Linked DNA regions of Homo sapiens. The protein of the gene in region 2 purifies or fractionates together with the protein of the main gene of each other region. This does not show direct contact. Each region holds a gene or a part of one and is shown on either strand. Other genes may lie near its edges.

Region 1 (3,500 bases), on a different chromosome or scaffold from region 2:
TAGTCGACCTGTGCTCCTCACTAGGCCCTGATTTCGCTATCTGATAACAAAGGCTTCTGAACTCTTATTCTTTTCCTCACTAACAAACCTCAATAATCTACACTTAGCATTAAGGTCTCCAATTCAGGGTTATGGAAGAAACTAGTCTTCCATAACCCAACGTTTCTACACATCTCAAGTCCTTATCAGAGTTATAGGTTCAGTTTTCACATTTCCAGGGAGAAAATCTGCTCCTTGGCAGTCTTCAAACTTTACCTGACATACATTATATACCCTCAGCCCAGGGCCTCAATCTCTTAACATCTCCATGAACACCCCAGCAAACAACAAAATATATCCATTTATCACACTTCAATCCCACTTGAACATCAGTAGCCACTATCTTGATATACTTGTGTTCCAAAAGGTGACGGAGTGTCCAACAGCAGCAAAGGTCCTCAGGATAGACATGTTGGCACCAATAATACTGAAATTTGGTTTTTAACTGCATTTCTTGTCAGTTTGGCTGGGAAGATCTGGACAGCTGGAAGTGAGCTTCTCCATCATTTTCTGTTTCTTTCTTTGTATCAATTTTCCACCTGTGAAGCCCAACACCCCACCACCAAGTGCAGCTGCAATTCCTGCCACTTTGAAGCCTGCAAGGAGGCCAATAGGACCCCCTACCATTCCCCCGATGAGTGCACCTGCCACAGGCAGAGCTGCCAGCTTGTATTTTGCAGCCTGTAAAAAAAAAAAAAATTCAATTTAGAAACTGAGTTGAGAATATCTGCCTGTGGTGATGTGCGTTTTCCTCTCATTACTCCTGGCAATGCCTCTTTAACTCTTGGTACATAATTAACCTTAGAGACTGTACTTGTAGGGGGGAAAAGAAAGTATTCCACAGGTACTGCAATTGCTCCAGATCTCAGAACTTAGAGAGCTGAGCTACAAAGAGTGGACTGCTACAAATTGATTTTACTTGCAAAACAATCAATTCACTAACTATCTAGCTGGCTTATTTAAACTGTTTCGGCAGCCACAGATTTCCCCCAAAGCTTTTATGTTGCACAGAAATTATTCAGTGCTGTGTGCCTGGGGTTAAAAGCAACATCCTATGGAAAATAGATGGTCCCACTCCATGTGTGCTGTCACATACTTACACTTTTACCCTCTGCAAATATTCCCTGGTAACACCAAATGCCTTACAGCAGAGCTACAGTTTATTCTCTCTTTGAAGAAATTCCTCTCCTGATAGAATGAATCTTAGAGTAGAATATTACAACATTGATTTCTTACACTACCTATGTGTCATTTCTTCCTTATTTCCTTAATTGCTGGTTCCCTCAACATTGAAGAGAGCAGATCAATTGGGTTAATACTAGAGATTCCTGGGAGCCAGAGTACCATTGATTTGTCAGCAGGAGCAGAATCTTACCTTCCCTAAGTTTTTGGTTCCCTCTTCAACATTCACAGCAGCACTGTTGACATGGTCTGCAATGCTGTCAATCTTCTCCTGCTGAGACTAGATGCAAAGGAATTATGAGTGAGCGGTCCTGCTGGGGAGCAGCAGGGAGCCAACACACACTATTTTAATTCCTGTAATCAGGGCCCTGGGTACTGCAGCCTTGCCATCTTAATAGTGGTTCATTAATAGCATCTGATAAGCCATGTCGAAAGGACAAATTAACTTTCATAAAAAAAAGGGGGGGGTCTTAATTATTAGGTAATAAAAGGGTGGCAACTTTACAGCAAAAAGCATCTCACGCTAAAATTCACTCAAACATACAAACATATTATTCTCCAAATGAATCTACTTTCCAGAAAAAAAAAATCCAAATAAGCATTTACATGTCATGTTGGGTTTGATGGAAAAAAAAAACCCAACAAAATCAAACCCCAAAATACCTCCCTAACTTACCTTCTTTGAGGATTCAGTTTAAATCAGGCACATTTACCTTAGGAGTAAAATGCCCTTGGTCCAATAAATACAAATTGTTATGTTTCAGGAACAAGACTACAATACGGTTTGATCTATTATGAGATCTTTCCATTTGTAATATGCAGTAGGGAACAGTGAATGAAATCACTGTTCTGTGCTTTACACCTGTGTATCTTAATACATTTTAAAATCATGACAGTTTAAAATGTTTCAGATCAAATATATTAATAAAGCATTCTACATAAAATGGCAACACCTGTGCTGGCACAACAGCAACTGTGACTCATGGAATCTCTGGGTAGAAGGAATGTTGAGGTCATCAGGTCAATCTCCTCTCTGATGTGCGAAGCCCTACTGTAACATTCCTGACAAGTGGTTACTGAACCTCTGCTCAGATACCTCCAGTGACACGAACTCATTACTTGCTGTAGGAACACATTCCCATTTTTAATTCAACTTTATTTAGATAGAATTTACATATAACAAGTACTGCTTTTAATGGTATAGTATGATGAAATTTAGCAAATGTATAAACCAACTATCACAAATGTATAAACAACAAATGTATAAGCCAACATATAATCAACCATCACAGTTTACAGACTATTTTGGTTTTGTTTTTTTAATGTGCAGAAAAAAGAGAATCTCTCTTTGATCCTAGATAGATGCCACCTGCAATGAGGGTGAAATAATTCAACTTTAATCCTGAAGTGTTTGATTGCCCTTATATAATTGGCCTATTCATTTATATTGAGGCAGACACATACAACACTTTTCTAATTCCAACCATTATTTCATTTGAAAACATGAAGCCCAAACCACACAGCTACTTTTTCCCCATGTTTGTTTCCTCTTAGCATTACTGATATTACTTCCCTTCTCATACACAAAATATGTCTATCTTCGCCATTGTGGTATCCCTTCATTCCAATATTCTCCACCACTATCTTGACATCTCTAAAACAATGCCTAAGAAAGTCCCTTATCAGTTTTCCTTTGAATGTCTCTGTGAGAGACAACTTTAACAATGGTTCTCAGTCTTCCACCTGGAGGCTTCTTAAAACACAGATTGCTGGGCCTAATCCCCGGAGTTTCTGATCCAGTAGGCCTGGGATGAAGCCTGAGCTAGTAAGCTCCCAGGTGATGCTGATGCTGCCAGTCCACAATTCTCACACTTTAAGAACCACTATTATATGTGCTCAGATCAAGGGCACCACCTTTAGTCAGATAATCTGTGTTCAAATCTCAGCAAACGCCACTATGTGCTCTTAGACAAATTACTCAAGCTCTCTAGGTGTTGGTATTCTCATTTATCAAGTAAGAATAGTGATACTTATACCTTCATAGAGTTGAAGTGGGGATAAAATGTGTTTGCAAAGTGTGAGGGGGGAAAAATAGAAAAATTTATCCTAATTTCCCCAAGGAAGTGTTAACTCTCATCTCTCTATCAAAAAATATATTTAACTTTTTCTTTCGGTGCTTGAAAATTCTAGGACACTAAAACTTCAGGTATCTTTTAGCATTCATTCAATCATTCAATTTTTATTTTCCTCAATAGCAAAACTTATTTAAGTCAGCTTTC
Region 2 (3,500 bases):
GCTTAGAACATGACATCAAGAACCAAAGTGCGAAAAATTAGTGTTACAGCTAGAAGAGTCCTTAGCATTTCTAATCTCTCTGTAAAGAAACGAAACCCAATGAAAAAAAGGGCCCTAAGATTACACAGTAAGTTTGCAGCTTTTGGTCTTAAGAAGTCTTTCCACTACTCCACAGAACTTCCATGGTGACTACTTGTCCACTTGCTTCAGAACATGTTGACATGAAATTCCAGGTTGAATGACTAATTCTCCATACTGTACTTCTGAAACAACTCCAACTGATAAGACACTAAAACACTACCCAAGACTAGATATCTAAGCACAAAAGAGAGCTCATATGATGGGAGCCTGCTCTCAGACACTTCAGTTAAAATATTCAAGCAGTAAATCTGGATCTGAATTTTCTACAGTGAAGGTTAAAAAAAAATCCTGTATTCTATTAGTAATACTCCATAAAAGCAGATGGCATTTTTGTGAGGAGGAGAACTGGAGTATAATTTGTTTTCAGATTGATGGTTCCACAATGTAAGCCTAGAATTAGATGACTCTTAACATTTTGGATAAAACAAAACGACAACAAAACCAGTACCTATATATGATATACTCAACTAATACATGATGTGGCGCTTTCATCAATTCATATTGTACAAAACATACAGCTGGCCATTAATTTTAATCTATTCTCCAAAGTAGGCTCAGAGGATTCTCACACAGGGTTACATCGCTTTGTTCAGGAAACCAGGTCCAGGCATTGGGCAGGGAAAAGATAAAGAGACTCAGGCTGTATATGAAAACTAACAAAAGAAAGGCTAATGTTTGTGAGAAAGAAAATGCAAAAAGATGTGGAGTTACCAAAATAAAAAATACTGGCTTTGAATCATGAGAAGAAATAAGCAACAAAAAGGGGAATCTGAAAAAAGTAAATTAGATTCCTGAAGTCTGGAAGCCCATGATTTTTATCTGGTATTAGAGAGCTGTAACTGAAATGAACCAAATTGATCTGTAAAGTCTTGTTCCTACTTTCTGCGCCATATTGTAAGGCAGCATAGTATAGTACAAGGGCTCTTGACCTTGAGTAAAATACCTCTAGGCCAGCAGTCCTCAACCTTTTCAGCACCAGGGACCAGTTTCGTAGAGGACAATTTTTCCATGGACCTGGGTGGGGGGCGAGAGGTTTCGAGATGAAATTGTTCCACCTCAGATCATCAGGCATTAGTTAGATTTTCATAAGGAACATGCAACTAGATCCCTTGCATGTGCAGTTCACAATAGGGTTTGTACTCCTATGAGAATCTAATGCCGCCACTGATCTGACAGGAAGTGGAGCTCAGGCAGTAATACTCACTTGCCGGCCTGCTCACTTCCTGCTATGTGGCTGTGCTGCCTGGTTGCTAACAGGCCGCTGACTGGTATCAGTCTGAGGCCCGGGAATTGGGGACCCCTGCTCTAGGCAGGCTATGTAATCCCTGAATCTTTGAGCAACATTTTGTATGTATTTGTATCTTTGATGGTGATGGTTTACAGTTTTAAATATTTTCTCAAAAGAGTACCTCACTATAAAAGGAGCTGCATGAAAGTGCACTGGACCAAAAAGTTAGGGAATGTGAATTTCAAACATGGTATGGTTACAAATTTGCAATGTGACCATGAATAAGCTGCCCCCACTACCCCTATGATGGACATCACTTTTCTCAACTGTAAAATGAGGAATTCAGATTAGACTTCTGTCTCTTTTAATTCAAACAATCTATGATTAATTAATTCTAAATAATAGAATTTTAGGCTTAGTGGCATCTGGCATTTGAAATATTTCTGGTCAGAAAGAATTTCCAAGATTCTTTAAATCACAACACATTGATACTACCAACCTACAATCCTGGACCTAGATTTCTGTCCACGAAAAGTTACTAGCTAGTTCTACTTAACTTGTCCTGATAGTTATATAAACCAGCCAAAAAAAAAAATGTGGCACCCTATTAACTAGCGTTGACAGCAGTTGTGATACATGTCATCAAACATAATCTACAGAACATGTTTCCTTTAAAAAGGCATTTGTCCAAAGACAACAAGAGAACTTTCCAAAATTATGCTTAGAGAAGCCCGTTAGAAATATAGAGCTTCCTCCCAAAAGGTTTCAACCAAACCTCTATTTTTTTAAATACAGAGTTTAACATATAACTGTGGCATAATTTATAAGCAGTTGTCATGGGGAATCTAAGGAATCCCTGGAAAGAAAAGGAGGAAACCAGGAAGAAACAGAGAATCAGACTGGTTATATGCCACACTTACCACCCACGTTGCTTTTATGCTTATCATAGATTTCTCTCACTTTCCGGTAGCGGAAAGCTAGTTTCCTCATCCAGTCCACACCTCCCTGAACACCCACAGATGAACCATGGCTGCCACTACCTCCTGAGCCACTGAAACCATCTGTTGAGAAACTGTAGTTGCTGCAAGGAGAGAAGATAATAAAAATTAAAATTTATACAGCATAAAGTTTTTGTTTGAGTGCTATTTGGTTGGGTTCTTGGTATCTGATAAATAAGGCCAATGGCTTTAAGGATCTTCTTCCTTAATCTCTGTATGTCAGAGTCTATCTTTCATTAGTTCTCTATCTCACACTTATTACTTCTATCAAAGAAAGGACTGAAATGAGAGAGGGAATGAAAGGTAGAAACAATTCAAGCACCAGCATTCCTTAGAGGTTGACTTGGGATAAGGCATCTTTTTCACTAATGACAGAAAATAACCACACAGTGAAAAAAGCAGAATATAAAATTTTGTGAGTACACTTACACACACAGTGATTGCAACTATGTAAAAAGGAGAAACATGAAAAAATAATGAAAGGAAATAGGCTAAAATGCTAACAATGGTAAGATAATGGCAGATATTTCCTTAAGTGATCTGCTGGCTGGTTTATGTTCATAGGTCACTGTGGTAGCTTCAAAATATATCTACAAATTCTTTGATATTCCTCTCTTCTAATTCTGCTCCCCTTGGGTATGGACTATACTTAAAATATAAATAGAAAGTGATAAAACTGATAGTGTTAGGCTTCAGAGACTAGGCTTCTTCTGCTCTCTCTTGGAGCACTTGCTCTGGAAGAAGCCAGCTGTCACGTGAGAACATTCAAGCAGCCCCATGGAGAGGTATGTGTAATGAGGAACTAAAGCCTTCTGTCATCAGCCACATGTCAGAGATTGGAAGCACATTCTCCAGCTCCAGTTAAGCTTTCAGATGATTAGAGCTCTAGCCAACATCTTGATTTCAACCCCAGAAACTCTAATTGAGAACTACCTCTGGGGCTGAATGCAGTGGCTCATGCCTATAATCCCAGCACTTTGGGAGGCCGAGGCGGGTGGATCTCCTGAGGTCCCGCCTCGGCCAACATGGTGAAACCCTGTCTTTACAAAAAATACAAAAATTAGCTGGGTGTGGTGGCGCATGCCTGTAGTCCCAGCTACTCGGGAGACTGAGGAAGGAGAATCGCTTGAGAT
Region 3 (3,500 bases), on a different chromosome or scaffold from region 2:
GGGATTCCAAAGATCTTAAAGAGTCACCCAAAAAGGAATCAAAGGTGGTTAGGGACAGAGGAGAAAAGGTCAGGATTAGCCTAAGGTTTAGCTACTTTCCTGTTTTATTTATAATATTTTTGTTGTTGTTGTTTTTAAATGTCCTGTGGTATTTTTGATTGTTTCTGTGCTGCTCAGCATTCTTCCGAGGTCAAGTTGCTTTTGGTAAATAGTGATGCTGCGTGTGGTGGTTCCCATGGGTGCTGGTCTCTCTGTGTCTTACCAGCTTTTCAAACTCCATGTATGTCATCTTTTCTAGACCACTCTGGCTCACATCATAGCCAGCAACAGCAAGAAACATAGCATAAGGTTTGTGACATTATCTGCAACAAATGCCAAGACAAATGATGTGCGAGATGTCATAAAACAAGCTCAAAATGAAAAGAGCTTTTTCAAAAGGAAAACCATCCTTTTTATTGATGAGATTCATCGGTTCAATAAATCTCAGCAGGTATATTAACTTCCTTCTACCTTTTGGTCGTTGTGAACATCAAACAATATAAAGTGTGTGAGATCACTATACAAACGCTAGAGACTTACGAGCTTTGTTTACAAAGAAGCGTAGGCTTGTGAACCCATCTCCTTCAAGCCTATTTCTCCATACATTTCTTAGTGTTTTTTGATAACAAGAAAATGCTTTCTCTATCTGATAAATGAAATGGTTGGCATATCCCTGAGCTATACGTATCAGAAAAGCACCTTTGAATCAAATTTCCAGTTTTAGGAATTTTTAATCTAAATACTAGGAGTCATTGTGAACAGTAAAATAATGATTTTAAGGTCATTATTTTAATGGGTTTTTAAAAATTACTTTAACAGTATTTTTATTTTGAAAATTAAACAATCGGTATTTTCTGTAACTCCAGGCTCTGTCTTCAAGGTGAATGTTGGAAGAGCTAATGATTACTGTTTATTTAAATGGGTTTCTGAAATAAAAGGACACAAGCTATTTTTATAAACAAAGCCACTTAGGGATTTAAAAAAAAATAAACATTAAAATTTTATTGGGCTGAGATCTGAGAGCTATACTCTAAATAAAAAAAAATTAAATTTTTAGGCATAACTTTAAAAAATTTTTTTTTGTAACTTTTTAATCATACATAGAATATTTCACAAAACTCTACTGAGCCTTTTTTGAACCTTTTTGAATAAAAAGACCCTTTTAAAGTTCTGACGAGGCGTTAGCATTCTAGGTTTCATATTGGACCACTGACTCATCTTAGTATTTTTTCCCCATAAAACAGCATAATAGGAATAATAATAATATGATTGAGTGCTTGCTGTGGAAGAAGATTCTGGAAGTGTTAATGTTTTTGTGTGTTCTTGTCTATAAATAAATAGCTGTTACATATAAGCTATGTGCCAGTTCAGCCTTTGGTAGAAGATGGTTTTCTGAGTAAAGAAATCATTTATGTTGAAACTAAGCTAGAATTCTACTTAAAGCTATTAGTCTACCAGCAAGAGATCAGGCTTGGACGGGCATTCCAGAAGATGTGTTTCAGACTTAAAAGCAAGAGTTGTACTCCCCCAAATATTGCATCTATATTCAGTGAATATAAGGCTGCTGCTATTCCTGAACTCGAAAGATAAAAATGAGGAAAAGGAAGGAAGGGATAGCCAACTTACATAGGATTCTGCAGGTGGCTGTTGACTGGAATCACTTTTTTCTGTTTTCCTCCCATGATTAGGACACTTTCCTTCCTCACGTGGAATGTGGGACGATCACTCTGATTGGGGCAACCACTGAAAACCCTTCCTTCCAGGTCAACGCTGCTCTTCTGAGCCGCTGTCGAGTGATTGTTCTTGAGAAGCTTCCAGTAGAGGCAATGGTGACTATTTTAATGCGAGCGATCAACTCCCTGGGAATCCACGTCCTAGACTCTAGCCGTCCCACTGACCCTCTGAGCCACAGCAGCAACAGCAGCTCAGAGTAAGTTGACAGTGTGCAGCGTCCTGGGGGCACACACCTCCCAGAGAGTCTCCTGGCAGGGGGCCAGAAAGGGCCGGGCGTCAGTGAGGAGAGGGTGGGGACAGAGAAGAAATGTTGATCCGCCCGTAATGAAAATAAAAGAGGAGGGAAATGTTCGATTATACCTAACAAAGTTATCCCTGCACACTTGAAGATGCATTTTCCAGCCTCTAATATGTGTTTCTATAATTCTTCAAGCTTTAACTTTGCTTTGTTGTTTTGGTTCTTGGGTGTTTGCTTTTGTGCTTAGGCTTCTATGGGAAGCCTTATTGATGATTTGAAAGGCTTTATGTCCCTCATTGAATAGAACAAATAGATAGATAAATACTTTCTAGACTTACCATACAACTCTTTTGAGCATTGTACTCATGTTTCAATTTCTTTTTAACCTGCAGTTTAGCATTTTGTTAAAAAAAAAAAATCAAGTAAAAATTAACTTGTAACCTTAAAATTATGTAATCCTTTTTGTGTAGTTGAAACTCAGTTTCATGAAAGTAAAGGAATGTTAACTGAATATGACATTATAGGCTGTCCCTATCCTTTTAGTGACCTATTTCTGCATCATGAGTACCACATGAGCTCGTTAATGCACCAAGTGTATATCATAGATAATTTGATTTCTTGGGTCAGGGGTTTTCCTTTTTTTTAATATTAGAACATATTCTTCAGATGGTATTTGTTCATACGTTGGCTGAAATACTGCCATGGAACATAATCTGGTGTGATGAGAGGCTATTGCCCACCTCCTCCTGCTGTGGACTCTGCAGCTGCTCGTGCCTGCCCTGAGGCCAAGTTCTGGAGCCACTTTTCTGTGAGGATTAAAGTACAAGGCATAGTTTAGGCTCAGGGTTTAGGTTTCACCAGGCTCTCCCTATGTGTCTGGCCCCATTTGCTCCTGTCTGAGATGGAGGGAGAATTCTGCTGTGTCTAATGAAAGCATTGAAACATTTGGCCCGTGGACCACTGGGTAGGACAGAGTGGCCTTGTTTTGGAATACCGTTGTGATGGGGATAGCCATTACATCTGTGGCCACAAGCAGTGTGTGGAACCTGTGGTATCAGCCACATGGACTCATACTCAGAAGTGCTTTATGTGGTGGGCATTTGTCAGAGCCTAAGGGGGCTGCCAGCTCCTCATATGTAGTACAGGTTGAGTATCCCAAATCTGAAATCCAAAATGCTCCCAAATCTAAAGCTTTTTGAGCACCTTCATGATGCTGTGAAAGGAAATGCTTATTGGAGCACTTCAGATTTCTGGATTTTGGGTGCTCATCTGGTAAGTATATAATGCAAATATTCTAAAATCAAAAAAATAGGAAATTCAGACCACTTCTGGTCCCAGGCACTTCAGATGTGGGATACTCATGTGTAGGTTTCCCGTAACAGAATTCTCATTACAGACGCATAGAACCACATGGTAAAGACAAATTGAAAGAAAAGGGGGGAAATCCTAACATGTTTCATGTTTCTGTGTGTTCTTTGCTCTGTGTACT
Region 4 (3,500 bases), on a different chromosome or scaffold from region 2:
AGAGTGTGGAGCTCAGTTGGGTCTGTAACTAGGTGTCCTTGTAGTTGCTGGGGATGGATGTATACTGACTATGAGACACTGACATATCATTTTTAAGCCCAGTTGGAAAATATAAAAATTTGAGAGCTATGAGGCTATAGAAAACTAATTCTACACTTGAAGCTGACTTCAGTTTGGTCCAAATATAGAATAAAGAGGATTGAGATTTTTCCATTATCTGTGCCTTCACACAGTGGGTTGTTCCACAGCACAAAGACTTTTCTTTCTTAATGATGAAACAACAACAAAAGCAAAAAGAAAATGTCACTAGATCAAAGCCTTCTGGAAAATCTGACCTGAGCTTCTGAGAAAGGAATAACTGAAATACTGTTTTCCACCAGGATGGTTGCAATTTCCCCTTCCAGATCTCCGATTCTTCCTAAAACACGCACAAAATGTCCATTTGGATACACAGATGTTGACTCCCAGGAATCGATGCGCACGACCACCCTGAAGTCCTGCACAAAAGGAAAAAATAAAACACAGCTGAGCACCAGGAGTTAAGTGGGTCAATTAGAGGCATCAAACAAACAAGAGGCAAACAATACTGGGTTCCAAGGAGAGTGGCCAGGTGCAAATAGTGGTGTATGGTAGGGTTTTTTTTTTGTTTTTCATTCTTCCTATTACTAAATTGCCAGATGGTATGAAATGCTTGACCCAATGCTTTGAAGGGAGGCATTACCTCTCTACATCAATGAAGAGGGCTGGAAATTTTAGTCTGCTGAAGAGAGCCGTAATATATTCTAGTTAACTGTAATATATTCTAGTTAACGCTTGCAACACTAGGGGAAAACTCAATTATGCATGCTCCAAATTAAGTTTTAAAACAACAATCTTAATGTTTTGTGTGTGGGAGGTAGTTCCTAATTTCTTTGAAGTCTATTTTATTTTATTTTATTTTTTTCGAGATGGAGTCTTGCTCTATCAACCAGGCTGGAATGCAGTGGTGCTATCTTGGCTCACTGCAGCCTATGCCTCCCGGGTTCAAGTGATCCTCCTGCCTCAGCCTCTCACATAGCTAGGATTACAAGCGTGTACCACCATGCCCACCTAATTTTTTTTTTTTTTTTTTTTTTAGTAGAAATGGGGTTTCACCATGTTGGCCAGGCTGGTCTTGAACTCCTAGCCTCAAGTGATCCACCTGCCTCGGCCTCCCAAAGTGTTGGGATTACAGGCATGAGCCACTGCGCCTGGTCTCTTTGAAGACCTCTTAAGATGGTCTTTGGTGGAGAAGAAGGTGTCGTGTAAACTGAATCCCCACTACCCCAAAATTCCAGCAAACCATGGGAATGGAAAATGTATTAGGTGCAACTGGCCTGGAGAGCCTGCATAAGGCTTCAAGATGTAAAAGCACAATGGCTAGGTTACTGGCTGGGGACATCCTGCTTTAGTGTCTCATTTACAAACTGTAAAATATCAGGGGGAATTAAATTGGGCAATGCCCATACTTTTTGACACAAGTAAAGGTTAATTTCTAACCTTCTTGTTTATGTCTTCTCTCCAGTGCTATATTCCTTTATGGATAATCAATTCTGTGAAGTACCACTACATCATCCCTACAGGGCAGAGTGATCGTATTTCTATATTGCTTGCTGGAGGAAAGCTTGTTAGTGTTGGCAAAGTGTATCTATAGAAAGTTTCTATGTTGGACAGCTGGATAATGTATGTTCTCTCTGGTTGTCCTACACAGCTCTTTCTAGGACAATTTCTCTCTGGCCTGAATTTATTAACCACAGACTACTTAATGGATGGTTTTCATATATTTAGAATTTTTAAAAAACAGAATCTTGGGGCTGGGCACAGTGGCTCATGCCTGTGATTCCAGCACTTTGGGGAGCCAAGGCAGGAGGACTGCTTGAGGTCAGGAGTTCAAGACCAGCGTGTGCAACAAAGTGAGACCCCATCTCTACAAAAAAAGAATTAAAAAACATAAAAACACGGCTGGGCATGGTAGCTCACACCTGTAATTCCAACACTTTGGGAGGTGGAGGTGGTGGATCATGAGGTCAGGAGTTTGAGACCAGCCTGGCCAACACAGTGAAACCCCATCTCTACTAAAAATACAAAAATTAGCCGGGCGTGGTGGCGGGAGCCTGTAATCCCAGCTACTCGGGAGGCTGAGGCAGGGGAACTGCTTGAACCCGGGAGGTGGAGGTTGCAATGAGCTGAGATCACGCCACTACACTCCAGCCTGGGTGACAGAGTGAGACTCTGTCTTGGAAAAACAAAAGAACAACAACAAAAAAACCCCAAAAAACACATCCCAGTATCTTGGAATGCCAGATGCCATCAATAATTTATTTCTTTATATGCAAAGGAATTAACAATGCTTTCTGGTACTGCTAAAAAGCTGGTAAAGACAGAAGGAGAAAGCGTAGAGATCCCATAGTAGAGGTAGAATGCCAACTACCTGGAGGGTTTCTGCTTGCTGAGTGCTAATTCGAATTTTGGGAATTCTGTAATCCCAAGGTGTAACCAGGATTTTCTGAGCATTTTTGCCCTGAGATTGGACCTCTTCTTTGGACGGAAATGTCACCACATAATCCCGCCAGTTCTTCTGAAGTATGCCCACCACTCGACCTTTGGCAAAACAAAACAAAACAAGGCATTAACTGGTTAGGTGCCATCTATCTGGACTCTGACCACCTCAAGCAGTAAGGAAAAGAACAAGAAATACAGTGTCCTATTTTTTTTCAAGCACATCCACCCAACTCAAGAATGTTTTTGAAAGGAAGCTTTTATTAACAACAATAACGGCCAGGCATGGTGGCTCATGCCTGTAATCCCAGCACTTTGGGAGGCTGGGGCAGGAGGATCACTTGAGGCCAGGAGTTCAAGACCAGCCTGGCTAACATGGTGAAACCCCACCTCTACTAAAAATACAAAAATTAGCTGGGCATGGTGGCGTGCGCCTGTGATCACAGCTGTTTAGGAGGCTAAGGCAGGAGAATCGCCTGAACCTGGGAGGCGGAACTTGCAGTGAGCCGAGATGCACCACTACACTCCAGCCTGGGCAACAGAGTGAGATGCCGTCTCAATAACAAACACATAAACAAAAACCAAAACACACACATAACAACAACAAGAAAAGGTATGTTTGAAGATTTGCCTTCTTGGTATTTTATTTTAAAGATGGATAATTTAAAAACACTTTTTGTTTTTGTTCGTTTCTTTTTTTTTTTTTTTTAAGAAACAGGATCTCACTATGCTGCCCAGGCTAGAGTGCACTGGCTATTCACAGATACTATCATAATATGTTACAGTCTCAAACTCCTGGGCTCAATCCATCCTCCTGGGTAGCTGGGTCTATAGGCACGTGCCATCATACCCAGCAAAGATGGGTAACTTTTAAAATAACATTGTCAGTATGCTCTCTCTTCCTGAGATAACATTTAGAATCCACTTGTCCCATTTTCTCTCTTTTGCCATTATCTTATCAATCTCATTTTGGTATATTGGGA

The links. Proteins that work in one complex are often made in the same cells at the same time.
Region 1: the proteins of EYA3 (region 2) and STX17 purify together in Homo sapiens (affinity purification with mass spectrometry, with the first as the bait; one large-scale study listed by BioGRID). This does not show direct contact.
Region 3: the proteins of EYA3 (region 2) and WRNIP1 purify together in Homo sapiens (affinity purification with mass spectrometry, with the first as the bait; one large-scale study listed by BioGRID). This does not show direct contact.
Region 4: the proteins of EYA3 (region 2) and DIS3L purify together in Homo sapiens (affinity purification with mass spectrometry, with the first as the bait; one large-scale study listed by BioGRID). This does not show direct contact.

Annotation. Positions count from the first base shown.
Region 1 is NC_000009.12:99,965,654-99,969,153, reverse strand, and holds part of STX17 (syntaxin-17), read right to left. Parts: intron 1,502-3,500; coding exon 1,415-1,501; intron 721-1,414; coding exon 481-720; 3' UTR 1-480. UniProt on the Homo sapiens protein: SNAREs, soluble N-ethylmaleimide-sensitive factor-attachment protein receptors, are essential proteins for fusion of cellular membranes.
Region 2 is NC_000001.11:27,991,111-27,994,610, forward strand, and holds part of EYA3 (protein phosphatase EYA3), read right to left. Parts: intron 2,451-3,500; coding exon 2,290-2,450; intron 1-2,289. UniProt on the Homo sapiens protein: Tyrosine phosphatase that specifically dephosphorylates 'Tyr-142' of histone H2AX (H2AXY142ph). 'Tyr-142' phosphorylation of histone H2AX plays a central role in DNA repair and acts as a mark that distinguishes between apoptotic and repair responses to genotoxic stress.
Region 3 is NC_000006.12:2,768,393-2,771,892, forward strand, and holds part of WRNIP1 (ATPase WRNIP1), read left to right. Parts: intron 1-298; coding exon 299-490; intron 491-1,665; coding exon of another isoform or gene 1,666-1,721; exon of another isoform or gene 1,722-1,727; coding exon 1,728-1,969; exon of another isoform or gene 1,970-1,984; intron 1,985-3,500. UniProt on the Homo sapiens protein: Functions as a modulator of initiation or reinitiation events during DNA polymerase delta-mediated DNA synthesis. In the presence of ATP, stimulation of DNA polymerase delta-mediated DNA synthesis is decreased.
Region 4 is NC_000015.10:66,317,568-66,321,067, reverse strand, and holds part of DIS3L (DIS3-like exonuclease 1), read right to left. Parts: intron 2,620-3,500; coding exon 2,450-2,619; intron 498-2,449; coding exon 336-497; intron 1-335. UniProt on the Homo sapiens protein: Catalytic component of the RNA exosome complex which has 3'->5' exoribonuclease activity and participates in a multitude of cellular RNA processing and degradation events.